Regions from separate parts of the Homo sapiens genome. Here all the other regions are reported to be linked to region 6. The links are microRNA targets in miRTarBase. Many come from high-throughput screens and were not tested one by one. Region 6 holds a microRNA gene; each other region holds the end of a gene's coding sequence. Distances are between the middles of the regions.
What was found. The annotated mature microRNA hsa-miR-29a-3p reads UAGCACCAUCUGAAAUCGGUUA and lies in region 6 at 2,827-2,848, shown strand. An mRNA with a match to its seed (bases 2 to 7 or 8) in the 3' UTR can be bound and repressed. Matches are read on the target gene's strand: a 7mer-m8 pairs with bases 2 to 8, a 7mer-A1 pairs with bases 2 to 7 and ends in A, and an 8mer does both.

Region 1: the mRNA of SLC22A7 is a reported target of hsa-miR-29a-3p. Seed matches in the 3' UTR shown: 8mer at 3,034-3,041 and 8mer at 2,962-2,969.
Region 2: the mRNA of ITIH5 is a reported target of hsa-miR-29a-3p. The part of its 3' UTR that is shown has no 7-base or 8-base seed match.
Region 3: miRTarBase lists ABCE1 as a target of hsa-miR-29a-3p. Seed matches in the 3' UTR shown: 7mer-m8 at 2,846-2,852.
Region 4: the mRNA of SAMTOR is a reported target of hsa-miR-29a-3p. Seed matches in the 3' UTR shown: 8mer at 3,389-3,396.
Region 5: the mRNA of TRIM68 is a reported target of hsa-miR-29a-3p. The part of its 3' UTR that is shown has no 7-base or 8-base seed match.

Annotation. Positions count from the first base shown.
Region 1 is chr6:43,302,916-43,308,266 of GRCh38, reverse strand. SLC22A7 (solute carrier family 22 member 7) reads right to left here. Exons shown (of 11, transcript NM_153320.2): 10 at 4,023-4,229; 11 at 2,729-3,596. The coding sequence ends at 3,542. It overlaps CRIP3 (cysteine rich protein 3), which reads left to right. Exons shown (of 8, transcript NM_206922.3): 3 at 371-428; 4 at 524-655; 5 at 1,750-1,821; 6 at 1,954-2,048; 7 at 2,143-2,200; 8 at 2,392-2,795. The coding sequence ends at 2,453. Among named protein-coding and RNA genes, the nearest start is that of CRIP3, 3.2 kb to the left of the region's middle. RefSeq lists an enhancer at 1-781.
Region 2 is chr10:7,560,446-7,563,445 of GRCh38, reverse strand. ITIH5 (inter-alpha-trypsin inhibitor heavy chain 5) reads left to right here. Exons shown (of 14, transcript NM_030569.7): 14 at 62-3,000. The coding sequence ends at 363. Among named protein-coding and RNA genes, the nearest start is that of LINC02642, 89 kb to the right of the region's middle.
Region 3 is chr4:145,125,669-145,131,019 of GRCh38, reverse strand. ABCE1 (ATP binding cassette subfamily E member 1) reads right to left here. Exons shown (of 18, transcript NM_002940.3): 18 at 1,496-3,494. The coding sequence ends at 3,447. Among named protein-coding and RNA genes, the nearest start is that of ABCE1, 30 kb to the right of the region's middle. RefSeq lists an enhancer at 4,649-4,888.
Region 4 is chr7:112,817,777-112,823,127 of GRCh38, reverse strand. It overlaps SAMTOR (S-adenosylmethionine sensor upstream of mTORC1), which reads left to right. Exons shown (of 5, transcript NM_152556.3): 5 at 755-3,981. The coding sequence ends at 1,384. Among named protein-coding and RNA genes, the nearest start is that of TMEM168, 30 kb to the right of the region's middle.
Region 5 is chr11:4,596,420-4,601,770 of GRCh38, reverse strand. It overlaps TRIM68 (tripartite motif containing 68), which reads left to right. Exons shown (of 7, transcript NM_018073.8): 5 at 85-107; 6 at 644-744; 7 at 945-3,099. The coding sequence ends at 1,495. Among named protein-coding and RNA genes, the nearest start is that of OR52I1, 5.1 kb to the right of the region's middle.
Region 6 is chr7:130,874,245-130,879,595 of GRCh38, reverse strand. MIR29A (microRNA 29a) reads left to right here and starts at 2,786; the gene lies at 2,786-2,849. It overlaps MIR29B1 (microRNA 29b-1), which reads left to right and starts at 2,057; the gene lies at 2,057-2,137. It also overlaps a transcript of LINC-PINT not described here. RefSeq lists a silencer at 4,037-4,236 and an enhancer at 4,032-4,326.

The sequences.
Region 1 (5,351 bases), not on the chromosome of region 6:
CCCCCCAGGCACCAGCCCCCAACTTCAGCACTGGAGGCCTGCCAAAGGGAACCTCAGTAGCCAACCCCAAGGCCGCCCACCTGGTGGACCCCACACCAGCCAGGAATTTGGGAACCTGGGTCGTGACTGTGGATCCCATGGTTTTGGGGATCAGGGTGAGTGGGAAGCAGCGTCACCTTCTGAGCTGCTCTTGCTCTTCCTCCCTTGACCACAGTGGAAATGCTGGCATGCCAGCCCATCCCCCACCCCTCCCAGGCCCACCAGACTCAGCCAGTGGACAGACACACCTGGCAGCCTGTCTGGGGTGAAGGCCTGTGGGGCATGGCTCCCGCTGGCCTTGAGTAACCCACTTCCCTCTGCTTGTGCCCAGCACAATGGGAGGCCATACTGCCACAAGCCATGCTATGGGGCTCTCTTTGGACCCAGGGGTAAGTACCAGCCTTAAGGGGCCATGGGTCAGCAGAACCCTCCTTGTGGCTGGGAGCTGGGGGCTCAAGCCTGACCTCCCCTATTCTCTCTTCAGGGGTGAACATTGGTGGTGTAGGCTCCTACTTGTACAATCCCCCCACTCCCAGCCCTGGCTGCACCACTCCTCTCAGCCCCAGCAGCTTCAGCCCTCCCAGGCCAAGGACTGGCCTCCCCCAAGGCAAGAAAAGTAAGGCTGGGCTCAGCTCCTCCCAGTCCTCCTCCCGACCCTTCCCCAAGCTGGAGCGGAGGTTGGGCCAGGTGGCAGTCTCCTATCCAGCCCTCTGCTTCACATTCTCACAACTTCATTCTTGGCAAAGTCTTCTCTATCTACTCCCCGCTTTTTTTTTCTTTCTTTCTTTCTATTCCCTCATGTGAGCTGCTGAGTTAAGAGGTAAATTGTTGGGAGGCCGAGGCAGGTGGATCATGAGGTCAGGAGTTCGAGACCAGCCTGGCCAGCATGGTGAAATCCCATCTCTACTAAAAATACAAAAATTAGCCAGGTGTGGTGGCTCATGCCTGTAATCCCAGCTACTTGGGAGGCTGAGGCAGGAGAATCATTTGAACCCAGGAGGCGGAGGTTGCAGTGAGTCAAGGTCATGCCATTGCACTCCAGCCTGGGCAACAGAGCGAGACTCCATCTCAAAAAAAAAAAAAAAAAAAAAAAAAGAGGTTAATTGGGCAGATGGCATTATCCCCTCTCCTCGTGTGTTACAGGTGAGGAAAGTGAGATCCAGACAGGGCAAATGACTGTCCATCCACAAAGCTAGTCAGAGGCAAAGCTGGCCAGGAACTTAGGTCTGTCCCAGGCCAGGGCCATGGAAGGAATGATCTAAAGGAGAGGAGTCATTGGGATAAGGCCAGCCTCTCATATTCTTCAACTTTTCTCCTCTGGTCCCTGTTCTTTCCCTCCATTCCCTGAAGTAGGCAATGACACTGTGCTCCCCAACACCTGACACCCGTGCTGTGGCCAGCTCCTATATCAGCTCAAGTTTCCTGAGGATTGAGTTGCTAACAGGGTTGGGATGGTGGGTACGTGAGCCCCTGGGAGGATGAAAAGGAAGCAGGAGAAGGAAGCAGATAGTCCCTAATACACATAGGGATGGGGCAGGAGGTGGAGTCAGAGGGGGCTCAGCTCTGGGCCTGTAGAAGGCAGACTCTTGGGCGCCTGGGTGGGGCACTCTGGAATGAGCATGGCTTTTGAAAGAGGACAGCACCATATGCAGGCAGGTGCTGGTGGGCATCTCCACCTCAGACATAGCCAGGGCCTCTTCCCCTTTAAAGGCCCTCCCCATATGAAGACATTCACTGGGGAGACCTCGCTGTGCCCTGGCTGTGGGGAGCCCGTCTATTTTGGTAAGTAACAGTGGAAAACTTGGGGAGGGGGATACAGGGTGGGCAGCAAGGGGGAGGGAGGTGATCCAAGGCAGGTAGGTCTCCCTACTCTACCCCTAGAATGGAAGCATTACCACTTCTTTCCACCACCAGCTGAGAAGGTGATGTCATTAGGCAGAAATTGGCACCGACCGTGTCTGAGGTGCCAGCGTTGCCACAAGACCCTGACTGCTGGGAGTCATGCTGAGGTGAGCAGGGCAGGAATGAGTGGTTATGTTGGGAGGAGGCTGGAGATGGGAAGAGAACCAGGCTGAGACAGCTCTCTTTCTCTCTGTGTCTCAGCATGATGGAGTCCCCTACTGCCACGTCCCCTGCTACGGCTACCTGTTTGGCCCCAAAGGTGGGCAGCCCCATCCCAGACACTGGGATGGCATGTACATGCCTGAAGTATGGCATGTACATGGTCTGTGGGTATGTGTGGACAACTTCCCCTGTGGTTAAGCATACCCTGGCCCCCCCACCAAGTTCCCTCTAGGCCTGAACCCTGCACCACAGACCCAGGGCCTTTGGTGATAGGGCTCTCTCTCTCAGGTGTGAACATTGGCGATGTGGGCTGCTACATCTATGACCCAGTGAAGATAAAATTCAAATGAGACGCTCACAAAAAAGGTCACCCTAACTCAGGCCTCCCATCATGCCCCTCATGGTCCAATGGAAGCTACAAAAATCTCCAGTCCCATGGGGGTTGGGGAAGGTGGGATCTTGGGGGCCTGGGCCTAGGCTCCATGGTAGGCCAGAGAGTCTAGACTTTCTCTGCCAATTTTTTCCCTTTCCCATTTCTATCTGGTTAGGGAACAGCCCGTTTTGAAGGGTATCCTCCTCCTGGCCATCACAACCCCTTTCCCCAGCACATTCTGGAGCTTCAAGGTACTCATAAAACTTGTGTTTATTGAATTTCAGCCTCTGTGGCTTCTTCAATAAAATGTTGGCTCCCATGCCTTCAACTCTTCTTTGGGCATGAGACCAGTGGGTTGGAGGATGGGGAGTGTGGGGGTTGGGATGACATGCATTGCCCTGCAGGGTGCCTCGGAGGTAGCAGGGCCAGCCATGAGAACAAAAAGCTCTGTTCTTTTTGTCCCTTGGGCCTGGCATTGGCAGTCCTAGCACCACACAGTGGACAGCATGCCCACCAGCCCCATTGGTACCAGAAGTCTCATATGCTAGTCCTTTCTTTAGCACCATCTCTAGAAGAAGCAGAAGCACCTTATTCAGTAACTCATTTGAGCATGGCAACAGATCCTATGGTAGGGCCTCCCAAGAGGCTTCATTATCCATTTGGGAGATGAACAGACTGAGGCCCAGAGAGGGAAAGCCACATGCCCAAGGTCACACAGCAAGTTAATGGTGAAGGTTTTATCAGAGCCCAGGGCAGACTCAGTGGCTTCCTATCCAGGGCTCTTCCCACAGCTCGTCACCACTGCCCCAACCCAAGGGGCACCTTTATTTACAGAATCCTCCCCAACCGTGAGAGGGGTGCCCAGCAGCCCACTGCATTCTGGGAAGTCAACTGTTCCTAGAAGCCAAATAATCAAGGATGGATGAGCAGAGGGAGCGGGTACTGGCAGCAACTCCGGCCCTAGGCAGAGGGTTCGATACTCCCAGCCTGAGTTGCAGGGCCTGCCCTTCTGCTCTCCCAGCCCCTGCTGCAGAGCTTCTGTGGAGGGCCTGCCTCCACTCCCACTTAGTTCTGGACCTGCTTCATGGGCATCTCTTCCTCCTGAAGACTGGTTGGGGCACTAGGGAGGAAGGAGTTGTGAGCAATGGTGGGGTTTAATCCCCGAGCCTACCACCCCAGCCTGCCCCATCAGGGCTGTCCCAGGGCTCACCCCAGTTCCTGGTATACAAACGCCTGTACAAGTGACTCACACACATGCTTGTACACACCCCTGATGTGTAGGCATACTTGAGTGTGCACACATACACATCTTCCTGAACAACCTTATGTATTTGTGTTCATACACTCATGTACACATTTATGCTTGCAGTTTACATGCCCCCAATCATGCACCCTGAAACACTCACCTGTGCACGCACACATACATGCACCAAGTACACATGTGCAGATATAGTTTCCTGTCTGAATCCTAAGGTGTCAGGTATCTGAGCACCTGCATCCATATGCATGTTATCACACGTACACAGACACAGTCCTGTGCACACACCTCTTTCTCTCCACGTCCTGGATGGTCTCTGGCAGCTGTGCCTGCCTCGTCTCTGGCAGCAGGAGGGCGGTGCCGGCAGCCAGCAGGGCGATCCCCCCATAAGTAAGCTTGGGCAGTGACAGCCACACTCCATCCAGCAAGGCCGCCAGTGGGGCCAAAGAGCCCCCCAGCCGGCCCACCAGTGCAGTCAGCCCCATCCCTGTCTGTCTGTTCAGAGAAAGAGGATGAGGGAGGCAGATGGTGTTCACACCTACCTGGAGTCATGCCCCACAGGGCTTCCCTCCAGGGCTGGCAGGCCCTGATACTCCCTTCTCCCCATATAGCTAAGAAAACTAGGACTTCTTTCAGTTGGTCTTCCCACCCACCTTCAGGCCAGGAGACCTCAAGCCAGCACCCACCAGAGGACAGGGCCCCCATTCTGACAGAGTACCAATTAGGTATCACTAAAGGAGAAGACAAGTCACCAGACTGGGAGATAAGGAAAGGGTGATGTGGAAGGAAGAAGGTCAGTAGTTTGTACAGGCCCTGCCATGTTGTTCGAGGAGGCAAACCTCTTTCTAAACATGACCAGATGCCTAGAATTTTCCTCTTCCCACCTCTCAGTAGCTAGCTGAAAGACCCCCCCAACCCCGGGCCTTTCAAGGGGTTGCTCTTGGGACAGTCCTCAAGGGCATCTCTGCCTTCCAGGGGTGAATGGGATGGGGGTGGGCAGGATGGGGCTTCTTGGGGCTGTTTTCTTCTTCTTATTATTATTATTATTTAATTTTTTTCTTTTATTTATGTATTTATTTGAGACAGAGTTTCTCGCCCAGGCTGGAGTGCAATGGCATGATCTCAGCTCACTGCAACCTCCATCTCCCAGGTTCGAGCGATTCTCCTGCCTCAGCCTCCCAAATAGCTAGGATTACAGGCATTCGCCACCACACCCAGCTAATTTTGTATGTTTAGCAGAGACAGGGTTTCACCATGTTGGTCAGGCTGGTCTCGAATTCCTGACCTTCAGTGATCCGCCCGCCTTGGCCTTCCAAAATGCTGGGATTACAGGCGTGAGCCACAGTGCCCGGCCTTGGGGTTGTTTTCTTAAGGAGGCCCAGAGAGGATGTCTGACGTGGCTCAGGGTCACATAGTACAGAAGATAAGATGCTCTGCCTTCTCCAAGACTAGGGCAAACACAGAGGGCCCTGATTAGCTCTGTATTCTGGGTGTAGTGTGGAGAACGAGTGAGAGGCTGGGTGCGGTGGCTCATGCCTGTAATAGTGCCTGTAATACGAGCACTTTTGGAGGCTGAGGCGGGAGGATCGCTTGAGACCAGGAGTTTGAGACCAGTCT
Region 2 (3,000 bases), not on the chromosome of region 6:
GGAGTTCAGCACGAGGTTTCTGCATTTGACTGAGACCCGATGCTTTTCCTTGTCCTCCCAGGTCAGTTCCTGAATCAGGATGCCAGACTCACAGAAGACCCTGCAGGGCCCAGCCAGAACCTCACTCACCCTCTGCTCCTTCAGGTGGGAGAGGGGCCTGAGGCCGTCCTAACAGTGAAAGGCCACCAAGTCCCAGTGGTCTGGAAGCAAAGGAAGATTTACAACGGGGAAGAGCAGATAGACTGCTGGTTTGCCAGGAACAATGCCGCCAAACTGATTGACGGGGAGTACAAGGATTACCTGGCATCCCATCCATTTGACACAGGGATGACACTTGGCCGGGGAATGTCCAGGGAGCTCTGAAGCTGGCAGCCTTAAAGATGCAAGTGCATGAAGGACAGTGATGTGGGGAGGCCGTGGGGCAGCTCTTTTCATGGCTTGTACACGCCTCAGCTCCTGGCAATTAGCTGGACTCCATGACCCACCCCTGGTGCAGCATAGATCCGACGTCTGTCTGGGCGAAGGGTAGGGGTGGGTAGGGGCGGGAAGCCTGAGTGCAAATGTCATTTCCCTCTACTGCCTCTTCCTGCCTCTCCCCACCCTGCCCACATCCACAGAGGGGAGAGAAGGGTCATAGCTAAATGCAACAAAGTCTGTATCTTGTCCCAACCTGCTTTTCTGTTCTGTTAGCATATCATAAAGTAAGCCTTTCTGGTGAAGGAAGGTTGCTATGAAACTTTTTTTCTTGGTGGAAATGGACAAGTTTAGGCACTCTGCTTTTTGCCTTACACTAATGCTTAGAAAGCTGTCTTTTCAGTGGTGTTGCAGCCCCCAGATGTGTGGCCAACCTCTGCTGCAAAGGAATCTCTTGCTGAGTCCAGGCCACCAATCAGGCAAATAGCCCATACATTTGATCGTTGTAAACCATGAAGTCTTTTCTTGCAAGACGTTTTTCTTCTGCTGTGGTATCTTGCCCTTAAAAATTAGTTTTCATTAAAAAGAAATTTGATTGAAAATAGAAACATCTACAGCTCAGATACTGATCTCTTTCTAATGGGCTTTGTAAACCACTTGACTTTGCTAATGGCTATTCTCCAATTTGTTCCAATAAGCTAAGGGCTTTTCATACACAGGACAACTCCATGTGGTTGATTTTACTGGCATGTCTTGGTGACGAAGAGTTGGCCAAGTGAATGATGCATCTTTTACTTGGAGCTCTCCAGCCTTTGTCATAGTTCCCAGACCTTTTTTCCTTGTGGTCATCCAGGAGGTGATCAATTACATGTGCACAGTGCTAGGACGGGAGGCAGAGCCGGCTCAGAGCAGGTCCACCAGCCCACCTATAGCAGGAAGCGTGTCGGTGCTTAGGAAATCTAGGACTTCCAGCTTCCCTCATGTCAGATAGAAAAAAAGTCAGGAAACCAGCTCGTGGACAGGGGCTTTGGTTCCAAAACTTGGACAAACCTGATGCCTTAAGGAAAAGGTTAAGATGAGAGGGGACTTCCAGAGTCAATGAACGTCACCCTTCAGCGGACGGATACCGGGAGCGCTTGGGCGAAACAGCAGAGAAAGAAAGACTGTGGTCGGGGAAGTGGAATGCTTCGATGCAGGCCAGAGTTCAAGGCTCTGGGGCTGGCCTCACAAGAGGCTTCTTCCACGGGGCTTGACACCAGAGCAGCCCCCGCGTGAAATGAGAAGGCATGCTTAGCACTGGGAGGAAAAGCTGAGTTAAGAAAATTCTTTATCATGTTTGCCTTCCCTGGGGAAACATTCAGGCAGTAAAATGACATCCACGTGTTCCTGTCGGACGCAGCGGCTTCGGGAACAAGTTAGCGCTGGGGGACTATCTGGGCTCGTCTCTCTCTGCTTCGTGAACCCACCACACCAGGGCCTGTCTGCTGTGCTATTTATTTGCCTTCCGTCTTCCCAACCTCAGCTGCCTGTATTCATGCCAGAGGTGCAAAGGCTGCCAGCCAGTGCTGCTGACAGATGCTTTCAGACTGTAGAGCTCAGAGAAAGGGAGCGGCAGCTAGAGGTAGCCAGGGAGCTGGCCAGGCTCCCCGGGGCCTTCCTATTATGTAAATCCCAGCTGGACAGACAGCCCTGGAGCCAGGTGGCCCTGTCCCCTGTGGAGCACTTGGAGCAGTGATCTGTTGTTCCAGGTGTAAGTCTCGACACTGCAGAAATGAGGACGTTATTAGGAAAGACCAGTTCCTACTGCCTGTGTTGCTACTTTAAGAGCTGAGAAAAACATTCCAATGAGCTATCCATAGCTAACTTGCTTGCTCAGAAAAACATAAGTAACAAAGTTGAGCTTTCATTTTTAAAAATTATATTTTACTTTAGAAAAATATCACCTTTTTTCTTCCTCTTCTTTACGTGTAGATCTTTTTTTTTTTTTTCAAATGGGGTCAGTACCTGAAAGCCCGAAACCCCATACCAAGCTTATAGTTAGGACCTTTGCATTTGATAAAAAAAAAATATAGTATTTTCTGTTGTCCAGAAAATCTTCCCAGATAGGGAAACTGAGGCAGAGAGTGCCGTGGAGTGGTTTTTGCCAAGTCATACAACATACTTAATGCAGGGCTACACTGAACCTCCAGAATCATTTTGTTTGCTTTGACCCTGTTTCACCATCTGGGCAATCATTTATTTTCCTTGAGCATTTATAAACCAGGGCGAGGGTTGTTCCAAAATGAGTAATTGAATGAGATGAAGAAATATGTCATAATTAGAGGAGATAAATCTCCTTGTTATCACAATAGTTAATGTGTCATGATCACTGACTAACTGGGACCTTGAACAAGTCAGCATCTCTGCCTTTCAAAATGAAGGAACATTGTTCTCTATCCTCCCCTGACCCCCGACGGCCCCATGCTAGGTGCACCATCTTCCTCCATTTGACTTTTTAATGCTTTACAACTTCAGGCTAAAGGGAGGGGATGTTGGGAGGAGAAACCATCACAAGATTCCCTCGGTGCCACAGCTGTGCTGAGGAGG
Region 3 (5,351 bases), not on the chromosome of region 6:
GAAAGTATGGAAGAGGATTTTCTATGTCTTAGACCAATTATGACCAACCACGTGGGACTGGGCATTGGCAGAGGAGGTGGTAGTGGTGGTGAGTACAGGGCTGAGGATAAATGATATTTGCCACACAAAATCTCAGAATTTTCAGATACAGCCTCACTGAACATCTGCTCACAAACTGAAACACTACAAAGGAAACAATCTTCCAAGAGCAACAGTCAGCACAGTATACAGCCAAGTTTAGACCTGCATGTATTAAGTGGACAGAGTAGAAATGCTTAAAAAAATTAAGACAAAGCGGTGAAAAATTAAAGTAGAAGCTCCGGAACAACTACTGTCTGGATATTTCCGCTTCTCTAACTGGCCTTGCTTTGTCTCTTCAAGTCCTACTACTTTCAGCATGTAAAAAACTAACTTCAATCTGGAAGGCACAGAAAGCTCATCACAATCTGCCCATATCCATCATTTCCTTCCATTAATCTCTTAAATGCCCATGTTCCTTTCTGCCTCTCACCAGACATGTATTTTGCTTTAGGTAGATTATCTCACTTATCCTTTTAACAACTCAGTAAGATGGGTGCTGTTACTCTTTCCTGGGACCTAATTCCTTTATGTAGTCCTTTCTGACATTCCAACTCAGAATGATTACTTTCTCTTCTGAACCACTCACTGAGTGCTCACAGCAGACTAGGCACTGGGGTTAAGGACTTGACATACCTGTATCCAAGTATATTGATGAACATGAAGGAAATTATACAACACAGCAGTTTTGTAGTCTTCCTACTTTCTCTGTGGCATGCAGGTTCATTCCTTCAATACAGTAGGCCACTACATGCCAGACACCATGCTATATATACTGAGTGTTAAGACAGATACAAGACTGGACTTCAGAATGCTTGTAGTCTAAAATTAGGTTAACCTAAATTGCAAAAAACAGTTGTAGCATCAATACACTGCCTTTAAGACTACACTAAGTGAACACAGAAAATATGGATTATCCAGTATTATCTCAAATGTGGAGAGAAGTGGCTACAGATGCCACTATTATTATCCAATGACGATTTAAAAACTTCAATGGCTGGGCGCGGTGGCTCATGCCTGTAATCCCAGCACTTTGGGAGGCCAAGGCGGGTGGATTACCTGAGGTCCAGTTGAGACCAGCCTGGCCTACATGGTGAAACTCCGTCTCTACTAAAAATACAAAAATAGCTGGGTGTGGTGGTGGGTGCCTGTAATCCCAGCTACTCAGGAGGCTGAGGCAGAATTGCTTGAACCCAGGAGGCGGGTTGCAGTGAGTGAATATCACATCATTGCACTCCAGCCTGGGTGACAGAGCGAGACTCCATCTCAAAACAAACAAACAAAAAAAAACCCCCAAAATTTCAATGATTTATAATCACATGCAAAGTGTAAAATTCAAAGGGTATTATATATGTGTATATATAAATGTCTCCTTTTCCCGTCTATTCTTTGATCAAATTGTCCTTGTCAAAAGCAATCTGTTTCTTGAGTATTCCTTTATTTCAATATTTTGTATATTTTCACAAAAATGGTAGTATAATAAACTGTTCCAGTTTTTTGTTTTTTTAAGTATTTGAGACTTTTTCCAATTAGGACATATGAAGTAGTCTCATTCTTTTGCTAACATCTGCATTGATTTTATACTGATTTTATAAGTATTTTTCTTGTGTTAGCAATTGTAGGCCTTTCTGTTGCTATGTAAAATTTTAAGATACATATTTTAAAGATTTCATTTACATGAAAATACGTTTAATACATATTCTGTCATTAGCAGTAAGTAGAACTGTGCTCTTATATCACAAGTACTTTCTTTAAGACAATCCAGGATCAGTAAATAACAATAGCTTTTGCTTATTTTATTCAATATATTTGAAATGATCATTCACAAATTTAACCTATCCTTAAAAATAGGCATTACTTATTTTAGTATAATCCCATTTGTATACAAAACAAACCCTTTACATATTCACACTTAGGTAAGTGCACAGAAAAAAGCATGAAAGAATATACATTATTAAATTCAAACGCTGGTAACCTTTGGGAGGGTAATAAAGGGAGATCATTTTTTTATTCCATTCTGTATATTTGAATTTTTTACAACATGTATTTATGGGTTACTGAAATTATTTTTAAAAGGCATAATAGGGTCCAGTTAAACCATACTTTCTAGCCATTATTTGCATATTAATCAAGACTTCTGTTATTTCAAGTAGCTCTTAAAGTTTGTCAAACAGTTTCTAATTTCCTCCTCAATTTTGCTTGCCCCAGTCATTTATTTAGTAAACACTCTTCCTCACTCATAATTCCAGTTTAGTCAGAAGTACAACTTAAAGTGGCTCCAGGCTCCAGGTAATCCTGTTCAAAATTCAGGAACTCAAGAAATTTAGATGGGTTTTTGGAACTACAAAATGGTTTAGATAATGTGCTCTATATCCAAACTCACAAATGAATATATGTGGTACCAGGGGATACTTTGTATTGCCATCTGGGGACTTTTGCATTAATGTTGCCTTTAGGGAAGTGGTTTATAATCCTTGGCTGCCCAACAGAAAAATCTGTGGAACTTAAAAAAAATACATAGATGCTTAGGCACCATCTTTAAAGATTTCGAGTCTGTAGTTCTAAGGGAAGCAAATATTCTTTAGAAATGCTTTTTCCTAAATCTCAATCAGTGATTATATAAATATATGTGTACAAAAATGACATTACCTAGAGAATGACTGAATACAGAACCTCATGGAATGCAAAAACAAAAAAAGTTCAGAGTAAAGTTAGGGGTTTTTTGCGGGGAATGGAACTGAATTGGTTTTTGCTAAACATGTTTAAAAGCACCAAAAAAGATTAAAAACAATTTAAAAATACCTATTTTTCCAACAGTGGTGTTTTGCAGTAGATAATCTTCCTCGGAAACCATATACTGGTAATATAGTGCAAAGACTGAAAACAAACAATAAACATAATCCTGATGTTTATTTATCAAATGTCAATCAGTGGAATCTTTGACTGGCTTTTAAAATAAGGGCAGTTTCATTACACTGGCATACTTGGCAAACCAGGTAAGTACAGAAACCCTTTTCAAGATTTAAAAAATGGAGCAACACTGGTCAGCATTTGGTACCGTGAATATAATACACCTACTGAAAATCTTCCCATACATCATGAAAACTTGGAAGTAATTTGTATAGCTTGAAATGTCTTCATTTTAGAATATTATGCACAAAAGAGCCTCTTCAGGAACAGAAAAGTGGCATTTTCTGTGTTTCAACTACAATTTAGAACCCAACTGGCTTTTTATGTTATATTAAGTATATTATACTTCAAGTTCCAGAGTATGTGGGGCATAAAATCCTGATTCAAGTTTTATATGACAAAAAATTCTAGTAAATACTCCTTTTAATAAATGGCTTATCAATATTCTCAGAGTCAGTCTAATCATCCAAGAAAAAGTAGTTTCCACTCTTCTTTTGTTCTACATCCTAAAAAAGAAAACAGAAGCCACAAAAATCAGCAACACGATTCTACTATAGGTAAAAGTAGACTTTCACTCATGGTATTACTTAGCTGTGCTTAAAACAGTGCCTGTACAACCTGTTCTGCACATACCATCTGTTTCTGGATATTCCTGGGTCCACTGCTCAAAGGAAAGATAACTACCTCTGCCCCATCCCTAATGCTAGAATGACTCACTTGCACCAACTCAAGTAAAGTCCCTTTATATAAGATGCCTCACATATATAAAATTTTGCTATGTGTTATTATTTCTAGGAAAACTATTAAATTCCATTTTCATCAATGCAACTTTTATCTCCAGATTCAAAATGCAGCATACTGTCAGTTTGAGATCTGCCTACTACACAAAATATATATATATAAAGTTTTTTCCAATACTGGCCAGTAACAATCTCACCTACCTACTTGTTGAGCTGTTCTCTTATTAGGATTAAGGTATGACAATCTTAAGATGAGTAGGCATACAGAAATGATAACTCATGGTGACTGAACCATAAGTCTGTCTAAGAAAATGACAATACAAAGTGTCCTTAATGCTTCCAAAGAAATTCTTCTTTTCTACCCAATATGCTTTTCAAAACTGAGAAAACTCTTCAATTTTATGTGAGAACTTAACCATTTCTCTATCCTGGCCAAGAAGTAATATCAATCAGAAAAAAGGCATCCAGACATACTGTTAGGTGCTTAAGAATACAATGACGTGCAAGATAACTTTGCCTCTGGCATTCCAAGAGCTCATGGTTTAGCAGCAAAGCTAGGACTACAAATATGAAAATAAATGCTACAGCAGAAGTATGTATAACATACTTCTAAAGCTTTTAAGCATTAAGGATGATGGATACAGAGTGATAAAATGTAAACACTTTGAGGCACTGCAGATATTAAAAACAGAAATGATGGCCAGCATGGTGGCTCACGCCTGTAATCCCAGCACTTTGGGAGGCCAAGGCAGGTGGAACACTAGGTCAGGAGTTCAAGACTAGCACGGGCAAGATGGTGAAACCCCATCTCTATCAAAAAAATACAGAAAATTAGTCGGGTGTGGTGGTGGGCACCTGTAATCCCAGCTACTCGGGAGGCTGAGGCAGAGAATTGCTTGAACTCGGGAGGCAGAGGTTGTAGTGAGCCGAGATCACGCCACTGCACTCCAGCCTAGGTGAGAGAGTGAGACTCTGCCTCAAAAAAACAAACAACTAAAACCAAAACCAAAAAAACAACCCAGAAATGCTTTTAGAGTTCATTTACTTTCTGTTTCTGAGTGACTAAGATTTTTGCCTTTTAAGAAACAAATACTGTATTTCACAGAGGAAATCAACTGTAGGGTGCACAACTGTGAACTACAAAGACAAAAAACATTGTCAATTAAGTAGACACAATGTTTTCCTCATCACAGGAGCTTGTTTAGACTTTCAAAATATACTTTTTTTGCGGGGGTTGCGGGGGCGGGGGCAGGGACAGAGACTCGCTCTGTTGCCCAGGCTGGAGTACAGTGGAACGATCTCAGCTCACTGCAACCTCCACCTCCTGGGTTGAAGTGATTCTCCTGCCTCAGCCTCCCGAGTAGCTGGGATTACAGGCGCATGCCACCACGCCTGGCTAATTTTTTGTATTTTTAGTAGAGATGGGTTTTCACCGTTAGACAGGATGGTCTCGATCTCCTTGGCTTCCCAAAGTTCTGGGATTACAGGCATAAACCACTGCGCTTGGCCTAAAATACACCTTTTAATCATGTATTGAAAAATATAACAGAAATTGGTTAAGGTATTCTTAAAAAATTCTTTGTTACAATGGTGAATTAGTGTAATCTTTCCCCAGACATTTTA
Region 4 (5,351 bases), 18 Mb from region 6:
GGGATTAAGGTATTAGGTCATATCTTTGTTAATAACTATTGGTATATGATAGAGTTATTTTTGTCTAATTTTAAAATTGCTTATTCTGATTCATTTCCATAGTTTTAAGATTTAGCAAATTATATAATGTTATTCATTCCTCTGTTGTATTGTTTCCCATGGTCATTTGTCTAACTAAATCTAGTTTGTTCCAAACTAGGGATTAACTTTTTAATAGAATAAAAGTAATGTTGAGGGTTACTTTTTAAATGGTTAAAGTTAACAGTTTCAAAGAACTAAAGTTTTGGAATCATTCTGCTTGTACAAATTTTATAATGCCTCTTTCATTATCCTCTTTATTTGATTCATCTTTATTTCATGGTATTTCTTGTTTAGCATTTTTATATTAGTTTGTTTTTGGTAACTGTAAATGTTAAAGTGAATGTAAATAGAAATGTCATTCCTGTAAACTCCTACCCAAATTAAAATTCATGTAAGTCCCAACCCAAAATACACAAATTATTTCCCATTTTAAATTGTTAGGCAAAAAACATATATTTAAATGATGATTAGCAGGTCTTTGGACTTAATTACTTTGAGATTTTTGTAAAAGTTGTGGTTGAATACATCTGTTCAAGTTTAATAATTTAAAAGGAAAAATGTATAATCAATGCTGGAATTACTATGATATGTGAAATGGTTTGCTGAAAAGTCTATGTACTAAAGTGGAAATAATCTTGAAGTTCTTAATATGCCTTGTTTTCTGTTTCTGCAGAGTGTCTATAAATGTGATTTCCTGAACTTACAGCTTCAGCAACCACTCCAGCTTGCACAGGATGCTATAGATGCTTTTTTGAAGCAGCTGAAAAACCCTATTGATTCTCTTCCTGGAGAGCTTTTCCATGTGGTTGTTTTCTCTCTCCTTCTTTCTTATTTTCCATCTCCTTACCAGCGATGGATTTGCTGCAAGAAAGCCCATGAACTGTTAGTGTTAAATGGTTTATTACTAATCATCACACCTGATTCCTCCCATCAGAACCGTCATGCTATGATGATGAAAAGCTGGAAGATTGCTATAGAGTCCCTGGGCTTTAAACGCTTCAAGTACTCAAAATTTTCACATATGCATCTGATGGCATTTAGGAAAATCTCTCTAAAAACCACAAGTGACTTGGTTAGTAGGAACTACCCAGGAATGTTATATATTCCTCAAGATTTCAACAGTATAGAAGATGAGGAATATTCTAACCCTTCCTGCTATGTTCGATCAGATATAGAAGATGAACAACTAGCATATGGTTTCACAGAACTCCCTGATGCGCCATATGACTCAGATTCTGGAGAAAGTCAAGCCAGCTCTATTCCTTTCTATGAGCTAGAAGACCCCATATTACTTTTAAGTTAATATAGAAGCAAAAAGCCCCTTTCAGTCCAGGCTCCTAAACTAATTGCTTACACCAATTGGAAATACTAACATGAACTCAGTACTGAAAACCTGGTTTGCATAAAAGAAATGCAGAGGTTTACAGAGTTTGCTATTTTTTTCTACTTCTCAATTTTAAAATTTATTCTTATATAGAAAGCTTAAAGTTTCATGCAGAGTGACTCATGTCATAGCAGAAACTACTGTTACTTTAGCATTTAGCACTATCATAGAAAGGTACCTTTTTCTCTTTAGTGCTATTGTGAAAACAAGCATAATTTGCTATATGTTTTCCTTTTCAACTTTTCAGTGTTGACTATAAACCATTGAATGGAAAACTTTAAGATGTAGAAAGCTGTAGATTGCACTTTGATGACTCACAAGTTAAATGTGATACAGAAAAATAGATCGGTTAGTTGTTTTGTGATGCACTTATCTTTTTCTTTTTTCTAACTAAAATTGTGATGTTACAGAAAGTCATTTTATGTTCCTTTTTTGTCTGATGATCCAATATTTACTGAACTTTTTGTAATTGGTGATAATTCTTTTTATTTCTTCCTTATATTAAAAGCTCATTTGACAGCATCAGACATTGGGGGAGAGATGTCCCCCAAAGTGTGTATTCTAATTTTATTAGCCCTATCCAATAAACACCATTGCCAAAGTAGTATTTTCATAACTTTCTTGTTGATTTGGGCCTTGGTGTGAAGTATATTTACCTGAGAGTTCACTTTTACTTTTCTTAAACTTAGGCTTCATTTACAAAATGTTTTATTTAAGCAAGGAACAATGTAATACTCAATAATGACCTAAAACACCTTTTTGAAAGGGTTTGCACTTGGAAGAGAGTTTATGTTCTGTTGAAACCAACTTTGATAGGGTCCTCACCTTTCCGTTAAGGAGGTGCCGCACTACAAGTTTCAAATTATATGGAAAAACCTAAAATTAACCCTCTGTTGGTGATCTCATAAAATGGTTTTGACCTTTTGGTATCTTAATTTCTATCTAAACTTTATCAGAAAATTTTCTTTGAATATATCAATTAGTTGGCTGTGGGAATTTTCCCTTTCCACATTAATAAATGCCTTTCTGTGTTTCTGAATCAGAAGCAAATGATTAGGGAAAAATATATGTCCAAACAAGACAAGATTAGTTTAAACAGTTAAGAACATTTAGTCCACATTGTCTTGTCAGCCAGCAATTGTCATGGAAGCTATCATTTTTAAGAGTGCCACTGTGTGGATTTTTTTTTCAAGTGGTTATTACATTAAAATTACCTCATACTGAGGTTTTTGCACTGAAATATCACAGTTTCAGATTTCATGGTTAATGTTGTGCGTATGTTTGTATGTTTTTAAAGGAAACTTGCATTTTCAATAGTTGATCCTAAATTTCATAAACTGCACTTCTTTACTCTGGTAAAGCTGATGTTTTTGTGCTTATTGTGAATTGCCGTAGTACCTTTGAATGTCAAACTTTATTTAGAAATATAAAACTTATCCTTTATGATATAAATGGTTGAGTGTATGTACCCAGTATTTCTAATTAAATTTCACATGCTAAATTAATGAAAGTAACAAGATTGTAATTTTTTAAAGTCAGTTGATTAAATGCAATAAATATTGGTTGCTCAAATATGCCACAAATAACTCGAAATTTTTCATTTACTTTCAACAGCATAAGATTCTTTAATATTTAGGATTGACTGTTCTTTCCAGTTAAGCACTGAAGGATTATGTCTTGTAGCTTCCCCAAGAGAAGGGGAAGGAAAAAAAAGCACTATGTTAAGGATAATACAGAACTCTTTTGAACTATTTTGGTAGTACCTTTTACCATACTGTTTGCTTTTTGATTTGGGTAAATATCTTAAGAGCAAAGAAAACAATACACCAAATGAAAATGCTTTGAAAGTAAATGAAAACAGCGCTTTTGAAAGGCTGGTATAGTATGACCCTGGAGTCAGCCTTTGTGTTACAGCGAAAATGTTGGTGCTATAAATTCTGATTGTTTACAGATGTTGATTCTGCTTATGCTCCAAAGTGTGCATGATGTATTTTACGTAGTACTCTGAGGAAGTCTCTTTATAAAACCTACTACCACTTAGTATAAATTTGTTTGAATTTATATCATTTGTTACTGTAAATTCAGCTTATTCCAATTAGGTTGGCACAGATTTAAACTGATACACATTCCACAAAAACCAATTCAGTGTATAAGTATTGAAGTATAAGCAGTCATTGCAGCTTGATGCCAGATCATGTATGTAATAACAAGTGGAAGTTAATAGGGCCTTCTAATACTGTATGGGTACTCCTAAGAATTATTTCATTTTGGATATAAAGAAGTTATGAGGCCTCCTGTCACATTCACAGCTGGTTCTCCAAAATAATTTGGTTGTTTCAAAAACAAATGGTAATCATTTGGTTGGATTCTTCAGTATCATGACTAGATCATGTGGTTTTACCATAGTTGCCAAGTGGTGGGAGGTAGCATACCTGAAAATGTACGTGTGTGTTTGTTGTATTTTTTCACATTTTGTGAACAAAGCACATTTATTAAAAATTTTAAATTTTCTAGTATTCTTTGTCTGTTACTTGTAAACCGAAAGTTCTGTGGTCTTTGATGTATCTCACTAAGTGATTTCAGCATTGGGAAGCAATTTAGAACTTGAGTGACTTGTACAATTTTCCCACTGGGTTTCATTTTTGTTAAATCCCTTAATGTCATAAATTTATTCACTGAGATCCAGAGAACTCAGGTGACTTCCCATTGTCATGTTTTGTCATGTTTATGGCAGAAGCAGGGCAACAGCATAAATTCTACTTTATTGTATGTCAACCATATCATATTCTTTTTTTTTTTTTAAGTAAGCTACATAATTTATCAGCTCTTTCAGGACAGCAGATGTCTTCCTCATGATATGAAAGGTTTTTTGTTGTTGTTGTTTATTAAACAAATGTTTGAATTCTGCCATGTGCTATATGCTGGGAAAGCAGCAAGGATTGGAGTGATCATTGTCCCCTGCTCTCATGGAGCTTATGACCTAAGAGTGAAGACAAGCATGCTACATGTACTTAGTATCTGTATCCAAGAATGATTACCTGCTGATGCTACAGTTTTGCCCCTGCTTAAAATCCTTAATTCACAGAAGTAGAACAGGAAATAAGAAAAGCTTTAAACACAAAACTAGCAAATTACACATTGTGGATAAGAGAGATGTATTGTTCATTCCTCTAGGAAAGTATAACCTAAATATAAATTCTGATGTAAAAGCAGAAAAAAAAATGGATTCAAGCTTTTTGTTCCGTTTTCCCACACTTTCTGAGCACTATGCAGCAATGCTATTCCTCTGCAAGAGTCCACACACTAGGTCAGCAGAAATGTAAATCAAAGATTTGGTTCCTTCTTGGTTTTGTAAATTGCTTGTTAAATGATAACAAAGGTAGAAAACAAATTCTTTGTTACAAAAAAAAAAAAAAAACCCATAATACAAACATTTACTACAAGGAATGTTTGTATTATAATAACTTTATTCTTAAAAAAAACTGAATTGCCATAACCATGATAGTATGATAATTCATGTTAAAGTCATATCCATGAGCTACTGTGAATGCAAAGCTCCCGAAGTATATTAGTGGTGGCCTATATATATACACACTACAAAACCCAGTGAACAAGCAGGCTACAATAGCTAACAATTTAAAGATCTCTAAATGCGTAAAAGGAGATACGCTGGTTTTTCTAAACCCTGTTTTTCTCTTGGCAGAGAAATGGAAATCTCAACAATTGGAAAGCCTTTTAAATGTACCTTAAACTTTGGTTTGTATGCTTTTTTCTAAATTTGTTTCAGAATCTCAGTAGTTTTCTGGGTGGCTCATGCCTGTAATCCCAACAGTTTGGGAGGCCGAGGTGGGTGGATTGCTTGAGGTCAAGAGTTCGAGATCAGCTT
Region 5 (5,351 bases), not on the chromosome of region 6:
AGAGAAACTCCCTGCCAGTTCGATGTCTGTTCCCTCTGAGGAATAGCACTTACTCAGATGCTGCATTTTTTTTTCTCCTTCCAGGATATTCAGGAAGTGTTAAACAGGTATGTTCTCACCCTTGGAGCCTCTAAGCAGCCCTGTAGGGGATAGTGAGGCCTAACTAGAGCCAGAAGTAGGGACGGAGCACAGACTCGGTGCACACAGAAAAGCAGGTGCTGGTCCACAGTCTCGTCCCACTTACATGGTAATGGCTAAGGAATCTTTGTTGATCTTTCCTTTTTCTTCTTTGTACTTGATCAAATGTATATCAAGTGAAGCTGTAAAATATGTGGTTTCAAGTAGATTGCTCAAAGAGGATAAAAGACTGCCCATGACTCCTTCATGTCCGACAGAAAATGTGTGCACTTCTTCCTCTCCCAGAATCAAATATACATCCAACCCTTCCCATAGCATGGGCATGCAGGTGTTCTCACCTCTGCACACAAACAGCTTGAGGCTCAGCCAAATAACCGTAACCATCATGTCTCTGCTTTGCTGGGGTTCACTATGTCCCTGGCCAAGCCCCTCTTCCCTGTACTAAGATAAGGCCCATGTGACAAAGCCGGGACTCCTGGCCCTGAGGTTCACCCTCCTCTACCAGGAGCAAATCTTGGAGCTTGCAGCAGCCAGAACCAATCTCCCTGGAGTTGAAGACAGATTGCCGTGTGCTGGGGCTAAGAGAGATCCTGAAGACTTATGCAGGTAATGGATCCTGGGGGAGACTGTAGTGGACAGTGGGAGGGACCCCTCCCAGAGATAGAAAATGGTTCAGTGCCCTCTGGGTGCTCCATCCAGCCTCACCCCTTCATCATTGAGAAATCTGTGGCTGAATTTATCAGAGGGCTCTCACCCATGTCCCCTGGCCCTATATCACTGTTACCAACCAGGACCTTTTCTTCTAGCTGATGTGCGCTTGGATCCAGATACTGCTTACTCCCGTCTCATCGTGTCTGAGGACAGAAAACGTGTGCACTATGGAGACACCAACCAGAAACTGCCAGACAATCCTGAGAGATTTTACCGCTATAATATCGTCCTGGGAAGCCAGTGCATCTCCTCAGGCCGGCACTACTGGGAGGTGGAGGTGGGAGACAGGTCTGAGTGGGGCCTGGGAGTATGTAAGCAAAATGTAGACCGGAAGGAGGTGGTCTACTTATCCCCCCACTATGGATTCTGGGTGATAAGGCTGAGGAAGGGAAATGAGTACCGAGCAGGCACCGATGAGTACCCAATCCTGTCCTTGCCGGTCCCTCCTCGCCGGGTGGGAATCTTCGTGGATTATGAGGCCCATGACATTTCTTTCTACAATGTGACTGACTGTGGCTCCCACATCTTCACTTTCCCCCGCTATCCCTTCCCTGGGCGCCTCCTGCCCTATTTTAGTCCTTGCTACAGCATTGGAACCAACAACACTGCTCCTCTGGCCATCTGCTCCCTGGATGGGGAGGACTAAGAAAGCTACCACCCTAACCAGAGAGGCTTGGAATTGGGCCTGGCCCCCATGGGGCTTGGAGGACCGAGCCACTGACAGGTATCCCCTGAAACTGAGCTGAGCCCAGTATCCAAGGATTCCTCTGTCTGATCCTTTGGTCTTTGCTACCAGGCTGAAGTCTGTCATGAAACCACTTATTTTAAAAAGCAGAGGCCCAGTCAAATGAGCATTGCATCCCATGAGGGAAGCACGACAGGGCTGATGGTGAGGATCAGAGCAGTTCTAAGGTGACTCGTTGGGGTAAGGATCAGGACTTTGTCCATGTAGTAGCCAACCACCCTCTTCCCTGATTCCCGTCCGGTGTCACAGTTCAGTCAGTGAGGATGATGAAGTAGATACAGTCTTCAGGACACCATTAGATGGGCTTTCCCAATAGGCCAAAAAAATGCTGCGCATACCCAGAGCTGGTTGTTGTGCTGAGGCCAGTCAGAGGATGCTTCCCCTGAGGTTTGCTATAACTAAGCAACCTTTATGTGACTCTCACCTTCTGACCTCCTGGCAAGAGAAATTCAGTGCAGCAGGGGGACACAGACCTGCCCAAGCCACCCCACTGCCGTTCCCTCTCTGAGCACAAGCTGGGCAAATCACTGTCCCTTGGACTCCAGGAGACCAGTGTCCTAGTCTTGCCTTTTTTCTCTAAGTGGCAGGATCAGAAAACCTGCGAGCTTTAGTTTGTATTTTCACTTTATGAATGAGGAAACTGAAATGGCCTTAAGGGAGCAAGTTATTTCTTTTTTTTTGACACGGAGTCTCACTCTGTTGCCCAGGCTGGAGTGCAGTGGCACGATCTCGGCTCACTGCAGGCTCTGCCTCCTGGGTTCACGCCATTCTCCTGCCTCAGCTTCCCGAGTAGCTGGGACTACAGGCGCCCACCACGACGCCTGGCTCATTTTTTTGTATTTTTAGTAGAGACGGAGTTTCACCATGTTAGCTAGGATGGTCTCGATCTCCTGACCTCATGATCCGCCCTCCTCAGCCTCCCACAGTGCTGGGATTAGAGGCATGAGCCACTGCGCCCGGCCCCTGGAGCAAGTTATTTCTTACAAAGCTGCTGAAGGTAAGATTATCAAAATTATAAAGCATTTTTCACACTCAAGTGAAACAAGGTTGACAAACTCACTTCGCAGGTCACATGCCTATACATCACTTATTATATTTGGGTCTGAAACTTCTCACATGTTTGGGAGGTTTTATGTGTCCTCATTGGGAAAATGGGTGTAATTCAGCATAAAACCTCATATGATTGTCCTGCCTCATGGAGCTGTTGTATAGATCCCAGATCCATCCCATGATTTGTTCCTGTCTGAGGCATAGAGGCAGGCAAGCCGTGGATTTTGCACATGGTGACTTTCCCACTGTGCCATGATACAGTCTGCATCTTATAGCAGTGCCTTTGTCTCAGGGCCTCTGCTGGCAGTCTAGACCTTTTGGGCAGAAAGGAGCTTCAAATGGCTGTGATAAGGAATATTAAAAATTGTGTTTCTACTTTAATTGTATTGGCTGTTCATGTATGTAGGAGTTAAAATAGGCCAAACTGGAGAAATAAACGCATTCTGTCCACCATGCTTCCAGACTGCTTCTTGAGAATCAGTAGTAGAAGGGGAGAAGTTTCCATCAGCTGCCTGGAGGGGAATGAGCTAGTGAGGCACAGACCCTGGTGCTGGCCAAGGGTTGAGCCTGCCTCAATTAGAGGAGCATCTTTGTCAGGGGATTCCCTGGGGGTAACTGAGAAGTAGGTCCCTAGGAAGGACTTCAGTTCTGTCTGTGGACAATTGGGACAAAAGGGTTAAGGGAAAATCAATGTTGTTCTTTGGCTATTAAGACAAATCTTGGAAGGTTCCTAGAAACGGAGGATTGTTAGCTGATAAATTCATTCGAACTTAGAATGAAGGAAGGAATGAAATGGCCTCATTTGTAATGTACTCTTTTTGGTTGGTTTGATTGTTTTTTACATTTATAAGCCTGTTTGGGTACTCTGATTACTTGTTAGAAGACTCGTAAGGTTAAACAATCCACATTATTACAGATTGTCTGATTTTTACGACCAGACAAGAAGATTGAAGCTCTAAGTGCCTGAAAACCCTTTTCTACAGAGTAGTTGTTTACACTTCCCTTCTGAGAACCATATGAAAACAAGGACCTTATTTGTCTGTTCACCACTGTACCCCTAGTCTAGTACTCTGTGTGTGTGTGTGTGTATTAAATATTTAAGTGAGGGAACTTTCATTCACATGACTAGAATCAAAACAAAAATAACCTGCTTTTATCTAAAAGGGGCAGTAAAAACTAGAGGATACCTAATTATACTTCTGTTCAAATATGAATTTAATGGATAATTTCTTTTACTGTACCTTTCATATGTGGTCTAGTAGGGCAGAAGGTAGGTGGCCATGTGGAGGTGGAGTGCCTGCACTGCTCCCTGCAATGCCTAGGGTGGCATCCCCAGTTTGGTGCAAGCCTTCACTGCAAGGCAGGGACAAGCTTTGCCTACTCTTGTTTTGCAGAGAAACTGACGGATGCAATACCTGAATGTTAAGGGAGAAGGCTGCAAAGAGGGTAAAATGCCTGGGTACTGCAAAGAAAGAAAAAAGGTAGACATAGGGGCAAAGCCTTGGGTTCAAAACTACCTACAGATAGGCAGTCTTCATTTTTTTCAATCAGGATTGGTTGTAATCTCTTAAAATCCAAACATTAAGGATCTACTGTGCATCCCAGGCACTAGTTAAGAGAGCACACGTGGCTTCATGTGATGGACCAGGGGCCATATCTGAATGTATGGTGAGAAGCACAGGTTTTTCCATTCGGGGTAGCCATGGAAAGGAATCAGCACACTTTGGGAAGTATGTGGTTCAGTAAATACTTGAGTACTAGCAGTAGGTTCCATCTACTTTTAGAATAATCCAATGAGAATGAAACGCAAACCTGGTAAGGCAAGCTTCCTGATGGAAATGCTGGGAAGAAATTAGTGTTTGGGGTGCAGGCTGGACTATAACTTTGTTGCTTTACATCAGATTCTTTAATGCATCTAATATGCTTTCATTTAATGGACCTAGCCAATTTTTCATGTTACTTATGGAGAAAGAATAATGTGACATTTCAAAATGAAAATCTTATCAAATGTGTTTAACAATCTTATAATCTTATAATCTTGTTTTTTTATGTTATAACCTCATAATCTTGTTTTGTTTTTACGTTAGGGGGTTGTGAGGGAAAAAAGTTTCACTTTCCTGCCCTTTGGGACCTCTGTGCATCATTATCAGATTTTTAAGAGGCTGATTTCTACTCTGCTGGTATTCAAAAATTGAATACATTCTTGGCAGGTAAACAAGTCTAATATTAGTAGAAAGTATAGATGTTAAGTTACTAAGGAGCTTGTCCATTTGAAAGAGTTGTCATATGAGTACTGGGCAGTATAGGACTACTCCCTTAAAATTATGGAATTAAAAATGTATTGGGTATATTTTTAAGTTCATACAATATGTCAGAGTTTGTGTTATCTGCTTTCCATGTTTTATTTAATTTTTAATACTCTGAATTAATGTTGTTTTTCAGTAGACAGGAAGTGTTAAGACTCAGATATAGTAGCTTGCTGTTAACAGTTTCCTCTCGCACTTTAATTTTAACACTAGTAGGAAATTATCTTTTTATTAAGATTTTCAAATGTACATATCTCTTATATATAAGATCTTTTTCTTTTAACGTATACTGATTACTCAGTTCAAGATTTTCTGAAGGGGAAAAACAAAACCAAAAATCATGGAAGCATCCAGTGACCTGGAGAAGAGTGATTACATTTCAACTTCCTTTTTTTTTTTTT
Region 6 (5,351 bases):
ATCAAAAATAAGCAGACTTTAGAGTTTTGTAACTGATGAGAATAATCTGGCTGCTTCTTTTGTACTTCAGTCACTGATACTGCGAATTAGAGTAGCATATACAGAAGGATGCAGGGGGTCCCTAAAGGAATCACAGAATTAGTGAAACCATTATTTGAGAGTTGCAGTGATTCTTCTGTCCTGGCACTTTTCCCAGTTTTGGTGCTTAAATTTACTATCCACTTGAAATGTGTCACTGCCTGTCACTTCACAAAGTATGTGCCTTTCACTGCAGTCAACAAGCTGTTTACATCTTTGATGAAATGATTGCCACGCATCTCCATAGCCCTGGTGTTCTATTCCCTTATTCACAGAGATTTTTTTTAAAAACCAGCCTAGCAGCAATAGGTATGTGCTGTGGATGCTTCTCCATGATGATAAAGGATGAGTTTGTGCTGGGATCTCCTTATGAAAAGATAACTGGCCAAGCCCATGAGGAACAAGAATGTTATGCTAATCAGACCCAAGGTAAACAGCCTGCAGTGCACCTCCTGACTGATTAGCACTGAACCCACTTGGAATCATCAACCACAGGCACGTGGTAATTGGATGTTCTTCTAATACACATAGTGAGATTGTAAAATGAGGATGATATATGAGGAAAGTCAGACGGAGAAACTAAAGTTCAGTTCTTAAATACAAGCCAAGGGAACAGACTAAGTGAATGGTACAGCCAGGATTGGAGCCTGGTTTTCACAAGGTGGTATGTCATGATAAAACAAGCCAAAGAAAAGGTTGGGTAGTGTTTTGAGGCTAAAAGAGACCAAAGAGTCTTAGTGAATCAACCTTGATGCGATCTGGGTTTGAAAAACCTATAAAAAACCTTTTGTTTGGAGAAAGTGGGAGAAGTTGGATGTAGGCTGGATATTTGTGGGTACCAAGGAATTGTTTGTTTTCTTAGGTATGGTAAGATTTTGTGGTTATGTAGAAGAGTGTCTTCATTTTATAGAACGACCTCAAAGTAGTTAGGAGCAGTGTATGTATGGGTGGTTATCAATTTACTTTCAAACAATGCAGCAAAAAATATGTATCTATATTACATATAATTAAAGCAAAACATGATAAAAAGGAATAGTTATTGAATTTAGATAGTATGGATTTAGGAATTCATTGTATTGTCATTCCAATTTAATGTATAAAATTTTTTATAACAGTTTATAAAAACAGTGCACACCCCTTTAATTAGGTGGCCTGGGTACATGAAGTATCTTTTTGGATGCCTAGAACACAAAAAGGGACGACAACAGGCCACCTAATAAGATGATACCAAGAACTATACCATGACGGCGAAAAAGAACTGCTGCAAAAAATAATTTGCCAAGGAGAACTCAGAGTACAAAGCCTTACCTTTGGAGTAGAGGGAAGGAGAGTCTTAAGTAAAGCTCACAAAAACCCCTAACTCATAGATGCAGTCTAAGGAATTCATTCCGGAAGCGACATTAGCATCTCATTAGTGCCATTATGTGACTTACTTGGCCTCTGAGCTAGTCTATTTTCTTCCCTAGACCCCAAAATCTCAGTAATCCTTTGGATCCAAGTTATCTCCAAGTGAAAATAATAGGTTTAGGAAAGCGTTTTTCTTCAACTTCTATGGAGCACTTGCTTGCTTTGTCCTATTTGCATGTCCGACGGACGGTTCTCCAGCACCACTGCTAGTCGTCCTCCGCCTGCCTGGGTACTTGATCACAGGATGCCTCTGACTTCTCCTGCCTTTACCCAAGCAAAGGATTTTCCTTGTCTTCCCACCCAAGAGTGACGGGGCTGACATGTGCCCTTGCCTCTAAATGATGAAGCTGAACCTTTGTCTGGGCAACTTAACTTAAGAATAAGGGAGTCCCAGGCATGCTCTCCCATCAATAACAAATTCAGTGACATCAGTTTATGAATATATGAAATTTGCCAAAGCTCTGTTTAGACCACTGAGTAACTCACAGCTAGGTTTCAACTTTTCCTTTCTAGGTTGTCTTGGGTTTATTGTAAGAGAGCATTATGAAGAAAAAAATAGATCATAAAGCTTCTTCAGGAAGCTGGTTTCATATGGTGGTTTAGATTTAAATAGTGATTGTCTAGCACCATTTGAAATCAGTGTTCTTGGGGGAGACCAGCTGCGCTGCACTACCAACAGCAAAAGAAGTGAATGGGACAGCTCTGAAGTATTTGAAAGCAACAGCAGGATGGCTGTGAGAACCTGCCTCACATGTAGCTGACCCCTTCCTCACCCCTGCCAACAGTGGTGGCATATATCACAAATGGCAGTCAGGTCTCTGCACTGGCGGATCCAACTGTGATCGAAAGTTTTCCAAAAATAAGTTGTGTCTGTATTGAACATGAACAGACTTTCTTCTTGTCATTATTCTCTAACAATACTGCATAACAATTATTTGCATACATTTGCATTGCATTAAGTATTCTAAGTAATCTAGAGACGATTTAAAGTATACGGGAGGATGTGTGTAGGTTGTATGCAAATACTACACCATTTTCTATCAGAGACTTGAGCATCTGTGGATTTTGGTATCCAAGGGGCTTTCTGGAACCAATCCCTCAAGGATACCAAGGGATGAATGTAATTGTACAGGATATCGCATTGTTGGAATTTTATACTTCTTTGTGGAATAAACCTATAGCACTTAATAGATAGTACAGACTCATTCCATTGTGCCTGGGTTAAAGAGCCCAATGTATGCTGGATTTAGTAAGATTTGGGCCCTCCCAACCCTCACGACCTTCTGTGACCCCTTAGAGGATGACTGATTTCTTTTGGTGTTCAGAGTCAATATAATTTTCTAGCACCATCTGAAATCGGTTATAATGATTGGGGAAGAGCACCATGATGCTGACTGCTGAGAGGAAATGTATTGGTGACCGTTGGGGCCATGGACAAGAACTAAGAAAACAAATGCAAAGCAATAATGCAAAGGTGATTTTTCTTCTTCCAGTTTCTAAGTTGAATTTCACTGACCTGAATTGCATGTGGTATAATACTAACAAATGGTTCACTATTAGCATATCATGAATGGTTATACTTTATAGAAATTCCATAGACTTGGTGGGGGTTTTGTTTTGGTGACGGATACCTAGAAACACTCCTGGGGAAAATCGATGACTGGCTTAGATGATGGGAAAGGAGCAGCGAGGGAGTCAATTCTGTTGTTGATGAGAAGCTGCACCAGCTATCTCTGAACTCTCCTCTCTTAGCTGGCTGAGGAGTTCCCTCCATGGTTAAACAGGTCATTTTCTTACATAAGGAAAAATGGTCCAGAGAAACTGGGTTTCTATGGCTGAGACAGAACTGTGCTAATATGTGTCAGTTCAGTTTAGAAGGCAAAGCAACAAAAGCAGGTGCTACTTGAACTAGGATCCTAGAGTATACCTTTGATATGGTTTGGATGTTTGTCCCCTCCAATCTCATGTTGAAGTGTGATCCCCAGTATTGGGGGTGGGGCCTGGTGGGGGTGGTTGAGTGATGGGGCGGATCCCTTGTGAATGGCTTGGTGATGTCCTCACTTAACGAGTTCCTGCTCAGTTAGAGGGAGCCGGTTGTTTAAAAAAGCTGGCACCTCCTTCCTCTCTCTTGCTCTTTCTTTCTTGCTCCCTCTCTCGCCATGTGACATGTCTGCTCCCTCTCCGCCTTCCACCATGTATAAAACATCCTGAGGCCTCATCAGGAGCCGAGCAGGTACCAGTGCCATGCTTGTACGGCTGCAAAACTGTAAGCCAAATAAACCTCTTTACTATATAAATTACCCAGTCTCGGGTATGTCTTTATAGCAGCGCAAAACGGACTAACACAACCTCACTAGAAGTGAAGTCATTAGACCAAAAACAATACTGAGTTTTTAGGTCCACTAAGAGGCAAAAATAAAAGGCTCTTTATAGCAGCATGATTTATAATCCTTTGGGTATAAGCACATGTATGCTAGAACTTAAAGTATAATAATAAAATATAAAAATAATAAAATAAAATAAAAGGCTCAAGAATGAGCCATCTCGGCCGCTCCTCCTCCAGGGGCCCCTGTGTGCAGCTCCCAACACAGGTACTGCACAGACCGGCCACCTGCTGTCCCCATGTGGCGTCCTGGAGAACTGCAGGGGCACCTGGTGGAATTTGGGCCTTGTCCTTCTGTTTTCTTTCTGGCCTGGAAAAGCCACTGGCCTCACAATCAAGAGTTAATATTCTATCTACCCTGCTTAAGCTTTCCCGCCCTCTCACACTGCCTCCCTCCTTTTCCCTCCTGCCTGTCACTTGTCTGGAAAAGGCCTTTTCTCCTCGGGGCTAACACATGCAATTTGTAGCCAAAACATTCTGTCTACCACACAAATCCAACGAGAATCAGGATCATTCCACCACATCTTTTTCTATCCCATGGTTATTATTTTCCCAAAACTCTTGTCTTTTGCTTTCTTACCTATTCGCTGTTTTCCCTAAGTAATCTTATTTACTCCCCTGGTTCCAAATACATCCCTATGTGTTGATTTCCCTCAAACCAGAGGTCTGGCCTGGGATATTTTTTGAGACATCTTGCTTTTTATATTTTTAGTAGCTCCTAAGTATAATAGTTCAGCCTGCTCTTCTAAACTTGTCTCAATTTAATCCATTTATGCTTGAGGTTGCAATTTTTTGAATTTTTGCCATCAGACCTTGGCAATGACCTTGAGCAGTAGGAGACAACTCCCACATGCTTAGCATTCCAATAATGGAACACTAGGCATATACCAAAGCCATCCACATTGCCTTCTCCCCAAAGCCAGCTCTCCCTGCTCTGCCCCATGGTGAAAGCTGCGAACACCAGAGGTCTGTGACCTCTTCCCTCTCCCTTACCCACATCCATACTCAGCACAACTTGTTGCTGTTCTCTCTCAATTCTCTCTTTAGGATCCATCCCTTTCTCTGCTCTTCCTAGACAGCTTTCTGGGCCCACCCCTCGCCATTAGTCTAGCTTTGTTATAGCCACCAGTTAATCTTTGTAAAATACATACGTGAGCTGGGCACGGTGGCTGGTGCCTGTAATCCCAGCTACTCAGGAGGCTGGGGCAGGAGGTTGCTTGAGCCCAAGAGGTTGAGGCTGCAATGAGCCATGATTGCATCACTGCACTCCAGCCTGGACGACAGACCAAGATCCCATCTCTTTAAAAAATAAAAATAAAAATTGTTTAACCACATGACCTTGCTCCTTGTCCCTCACTTTTAGCTGAACTCTTATAAGTGTGTCAACCAGGTACCAGACCCTTCATGACCCCATGCCTACCTGTGTCACCATCTTCTGGCTGTGCTTCCTGGGGCCTGTGTTCTGTGCTCACCCAGCTGCTTG